Linked DNA regions of Homo sapiens. The protein of the gene in region 1 purifies or fractionates together with the protein of each later gene. This does not show direct contact. Each region holds a gene or a part of one and is shown in the gene's direction. Other genes may lie near its edges.

Evidence for each region. The genes of interacting proteins can lie anywhere in the genome.
Region 2: the proteins of NT5C1A (region 1) and KLHL8 purify together in Homo sapiens (affinity purification with mass spectrometry; one large-scale study listed by BioGRID and IntAct). This does not show direct contact.

The regions. Positions count from the first base shown.
Region 1 is NC_000001.11:39,650,665-39,653,015, reverse strand, and holds the end of NT5C1A (cytosolic 5'-nucleotidase 1A), read left to right. Parts: 3' UTR 1-1,787; downstream 1,788-2,351.
Region 2 is NC_000004.12:87,171,984-87,175,644, reverse strand, and holds part of KLHL8 (kelch-like protein 8), read left to right. Parts: intron 1-3,661. UniProt on the Homo sapiens protein: Substrate-specific adapter of a BCR (BTB-CUL3-RBX1) E3 ubiquitin ligase complex required for The BCR(KLHL8) ubiquitin ligase complex mediates ubiquitination and degradation of RAPSN.

The DNA.
Region 1 (2,351 bases):
TTGGTATTGTGACATGGGTAGTACCTATTAGACACCTGCACAACCTGCCAACTGTATACAGATGCCCTGGTCATCTCATGGCCATGGCTACGAAAGTTGCCTTCCCTCCCCACTACCAGCCCTGCCCAACCTAGGCAAAGATTCCTGCCTCTGCTTGAGTGTTCTAATGTGGCCCAGAAGTGACTTACCATTGACCTTAATTGGGAAGTATCTCCCTGATGGGCCATCCCCTAGAGGCCTTTGGAATTCCATTTATAAAAGTGAAATGTGGCTGGGAACTTTTCAGTTACTCATCTTTGCAAAGTGAAAGCCTCTGTAAGGCAAACCAAAGCTGTGAAGACTGGGGTCACTGACTCCCACACTCCTGGCCTGTGGGTGAATATATGCCTTCATGGCCATCTGCCACGGAATTAGGGTAAAGGCCTCAAGGCTAGTCTTGTAGCTAACTGCCACCAAGAAGCCACCAAGAAAATCACTGAGGTCACCCTAGACTGGATGCCTGGGCCAGGGTCACAAACCCCAATGCCTACAGGGGCGAGGCAGGAAACATAAATGAGTGGAGAGGATTAAGCCAGTTCTTCACTGAGAATGGAGAACACTGTGGTCTGCCATGGTTGCTGCCACATGGGAATGTGGCCTGAGGTTGCCGGATAGTCCGCCCCATTTTTGAAGAGAAGCTGGGAATCTGGACTTTTAAATGTTGGCAACTATTTTGAATTTAGAAAACACCATCTGGGCCAAATAAAACATATTCTGTAGGCGAGATCCGGCCCTTGAATCTCCAGTTTGCATCCGCTGGCCCAGGCCCAGAGACTTGGGTTTTTAAGACCCAAGTCACTGAGAGTCTGAGGATATTACACTCAGATTCTCAGTGATGGATATTTAAGAGACCTCAGAGATGACCTAGCTCAGCCTTTGTGTGTTCAAAACTGCGTATGTACAAACTTCTTTTTTTTTTTTTTTTTTTTTTTTTTTTTTTTTTTTTGAGACGGAGTCTTGCTCTGTCACTCAGGCTGGAGTGCAGTGGCACAATCTTGGCTCACTGCAACCTCCGCCTCCTGGGGTCAAGCAATTCTCCTGCCTCAGCTTCCTGAGTAGCTGGGATTACAGGTGCCCGCCACCATGCCCAGCTAATTTTTTGTATTTTTAGTAGAGATGGGGTTTCACCATATTGGCCAGGCTGGTCTCGAACTCCTGACCTCAGGTGATCCACCAGCCTCTGCCTCCCAAAGTGCTGGGATTACAGGCGTGAGCCACCACACTCGGCCTACGAACTTCTTTATTAATGTAATAGCGCACATATACTTAACTTCTGGTTTCTACTTAAGAGCATCTCAATAACCTCCGATATAGAATACGATGAAAAATGAAACCTGTGTGCATAATGTGCTTGTATCTACCTGTCAGAAGCCCTTTGCTTTGATAGCATTTGCTGCCTCAGTCTTCCTCATCACCCAACCTCTCTGGGTTGCTTGTTATGATAAACCTAAGTGCCTCCGTAAATGGTTAGAGCATGTGTTTCTTCGTCTTTGTGACTTCCCTTGTCTGGGAATAAGACTGCTTGTACTTCTCCCAGCTTTGCCCTCTTTGGCCTACTAGTAGCACACCCCATCGATCCAGACCTGTCTGGCTCTTTGTAACATTTACCTGGTCACATGATAAAGGGTGCTGAGTGCTTGCCAGTGTGGGTCCCTGTCACTTCTCATGCATGTCCTATACCTTAATTTTACCACATGTGCTTCTGCTTCTTAAAAGCCATTCAAATAAATGGAGAGGGTTTTAATTAACTTACGTTGTCTTGTTTTTTCCCCACAATTGTATTCACAAACTGGCATATGGCCCCTCATGAAATGCTAATGGTGACGTAGGTAATGAAGAGGCCTGGGACCCGATTCATCCACTAGTGCTGGGATCTTTCTGTAGAATCTGTCCCAGCACATGAAGACCACCCTGAGGGGAGATTCCGCAATGGACAGCAGCCTGAGAGCATCAGAAGGCAAGCTTCCCCCAACAGGGCTCCTCACATGGACTCGGTGTTCCCATCTGGAACTACCAAGGGTGGGGATGGAGAGGGAGGAAGAGAAGATGAGAAAGGATGTGAGATGAAGGAAGAAGGGGATAACTCAGACTCCAGCCCTCACATCATTCTTCTTCCTGCACCCCAGGGTCTTCCTACACCCCAGGGTCTTCCTGCACCTCAAAGTGTCTGCAGAGCAGGAATCCAAGAGTGGCTTTTCTGGGTGGTTCTTACTCAGAGCCTCTCATGAGGTTGTAGTCAAGCTGCCAGGTGGAGCTGCAGTCAATGGAAGGCTTGCCTAGGGCTGGAGGAGCTGCCTCCAAGATGGCTCACT
Region 2 (3,661 bases), on another chromosome or scaffold:
ACTTGAATACCAGCTTTTTAGATATCCTAAGGTGGAAAGATCACTAAGGCATGTGACCAAATCAGGATTCCAAAGACGGAGTAGACCACATATACTCTAGACAAAAACCTAAAAAATGTTAAAATTAGAGTTATAGGTTAAAACCTGCCTTAGGTATTTTAAAAACTCAATCCCACGAGTACAACATAACATGGTGGGAAATCAGGTTTTTGATTGTTTCATATGGAGAAAAGTACCTGAACCATTATGAAACACAGCTCTTAAAAAAAAGGAAAGGAAAAAAGTGAATATAATACAGTTGCCTACATTAAAAGAAGTGAAGCCTTAGATTAAGGGAGTTATAGTTGTATTGTTCTTGACACTGATCTCTCCGTATCTATAGATGTATTGTTGAAGTAGGGTATATAACACCAGTTGGGGTATGGGAATAAAAGATTAGACTCTCTGTACATTTTTAAAAATTTATTTTGGGTGGATGTTTTATAATGAACATAACTTGTTAGTACAGTAACATGTTTATAATTTGAAAATAAGATCTATAGAAAATGCACAAAAATGGATTGTAATAAATGTGAGAATGATAATCTGGAATGCATGTAAGAAAAAACTAGCAGGTTAGTAATACAACTGAAAACCATGTTATCTACAAAAAATAGTTGAAGCGTTGTGATCTGGAGACAAGAAAACTTACAGGAGTTACTAGATATTTTAAGAGTGTATGTTGATTTAGTAGGAAGGAATAAATATTTGTTTATGATTCAGTATAGTAGCAATGAAGCATACTGTAATTCCTCCTAGTGATTGGAATTGTATTGTCAGAAAGATCACATATATTTTGCACCAAATGGGAGATTAAATTTTATTGCCTATTTTTTTTCAACTTTATTGTTCTGTTAATAGCGTGAGGATTTCAAAGACTGAGCTTAATAATTTGTATAAAACTAGATACTAGAATAATTCTGTCTCTGTGTCAGAGTGAAAATATAATGCGAGAAGAGAGAAGAGGGCTATCTTAGTAAATATTGAAAATATTGCTGAAGAGTTTCTTTTAATAAAACTGCAGGTGGGCCGGGCATGGTGGCTCATGCCTGTAATCCCAGCACTTTGGGAGGCCAAGATGGGCGGATCACCTGAGGTCAGGAGTTTGAGACCAGCCTGGCCAACATGGCAAAACACCGTCTCTACTAAAAATACAAAAATTAGCTGGGCGTGGTGGCGGGTGCCTGTAATCCCAGCTGCTGCGGAGGCTAAGGCATGAGAATCGCTTGAACCCAGGAAGTGGAGGTTGCAGTGAGCCGAGATTGCGCCATTGCACTCCAGTCTGGATGACAAGAGCAAAATTCCGTCTCAAAAAAAAAAAACTTGCAGGTGATATATATATATACACACACACATACACACATATATATGATATATAATGATACTGACCTTAATATATATAAATGTATCACCCACAGTTTAATTAAAAGAAACAAACCTGAACTAGTAAAACCATACCTGAGACATTGTGGCTTATATGGTTGGCAAATTAGCACCATTCTGCAAAAATGACTTGTTATCAAAATGAGCAATTAAAAACTAAACCACACATGGGGATATGTTGCCTCTAATTTTCTATTTTTGATTAATAATATTTTCAACTGGTTTTTGCTTCTTGTGTTAAAATATGAAAGATTAAAAAAAAATGTGAAGACATTTTAAGCTTTTTTTCCCCTCATGAAAAAGAATCCTAGAAAAAAAAAAAGCTAGTCTTAAACTGTTATCTCCCACTGTCTACAAATGACATTTTAATACTTTAATAGGGAGTGATTTACACTATGTGATAACTGCATGGATTAAAATGGGAGATAAAATCCCAAAGTACTTTTTTAATCTTTATATCCCTGTTACTATGTTGGTTTTTAGCCAAAGATTGAATGAAACTTCTCTAGCAAAATAGCAATTGAATTTCTTTAATCTTTTAAAATATGCCCCGAGCATTTACAATCTGTGTGAAAAATAATAGAGCTACAATTATTTTGTCATATTATTTGTTTATAACTTATATAGCCCCAAATCATCTTTTTGGCATTTCAATACATTTTCACATGTGAAATATCTGGTTATCTTTATTTTTTTATTTCATCTTTCCACTGAAATGGACACCGATGTTTGTTTAAGCTATGAGTCTGTTGAAACCCATCATCCTGACAGCATGTCTAAAGGTTCACTTATTTATTCAAAAAAAAGTTTTAAATGCCCACCACAAGACACACCAAGTGGTAAAGATACAACTTTGTTTTTTGCTACCAGCAGTAGAAAACATAGCCAGTGTCTCTGCCTCTGTATAGCTTACATTGTAGAAGAGAAGATAACAAATAATGACATAAGGGCAATAATATTAGCATGGGGTGAGTAAAGGGTGCTTGAGGAGTGGAGAACATCTTAATGAAGTCCCATTTATTATGATCTGAAGGAACTGCAGAATTTAGCCTGATTAAGTTATTATAGGTGGGGTAAGAGTGGTAAGTGGAGGGAGATGAAGAGCCTTCAAAAACCAGGCGATGAAAGAGAGCAAAGAGCATGAAAGTGGTCCAATGTAGTTGGAAGATTAAGGGGAAGAGTGTCTAGAAATGAGGCAGAAAGAGTAAGTAAAGGTTGAAGGCCTTTCAAGTTTGCCAAGGATATTTTATCTGATGGGCTTTGAATTAAACATATATATTTAATATGCATGTATAGTAAATATACATTTTATATTTTTATTTAAATAATAGGGGAATTGTAGGATCAGATTTCTCTTTTCAGAGAACTTCTGCATTCAAAATGGAGAAGGGATTTGAGGATGACCAGAGTGAAAACAGTCTGACAGACCAAAAAGGGTTATTGTAATTCTTCATCCCTTGATGTAAAGAAATAATGGTGGCTTAGACTATACTGATAGAAATTGAGATAGAGAAAAGAGGACATATTTGAAAGATAGTTCAGAGGTGTATGGTCAAAAACACTTTATGATAATTAGAAAGAACAGTTAGGTAGAGGCAAAGATGATTCTTCGGTTTCTGCCTTAAGCAACTGGATGGATAATGGTATGATTTCTGAATTAGGAAAACAACATGGTGAATGGGATAAAATTTTTGTTTGTTTTGTGATGGGGTTGTATTAATTTTCTATGTCCATGTAACAAATTGCCCCCAATTTAGCAGCTTAAAATAGCACCCATTTATTAGCTCACAGTTCAAAAGTCATGCAGGTTTTGCTAGGCTTTCTACTTAGGGTCCCACAAGGCCAGAATCAAGAGATTGGGCTAGGCTTTTGTCTGGAGGCACTGGGGAAGAAGCCACTTCCAGGGCCATTTAGGTTATTGATAGAATTCAGTTCCTTGTGGCTATAGGACTGTTTCTCATTTTTATTGGCTGTTGGCTACAAGTCACTGCCAGATCCTTCCCACATGTTCCCCCCCACCTTCAAACAAGCAATGGCACACTGCATTCACTTGGTTTTTTGAATTTCTGACAATCAGCTGGAGAAACCTCTCTGCTTTTGAAGGTTTGTTTGATTAGATTAGGCCCGCCAAGGTCACCTCCCTTTTGCCATATAATGTAGCATAGTCATGAGAGTAACACCAGGGGATGAAGGTCATGGGGGATGAGGAGTATCTTAAAATTCTGCCTACCACAGCGAG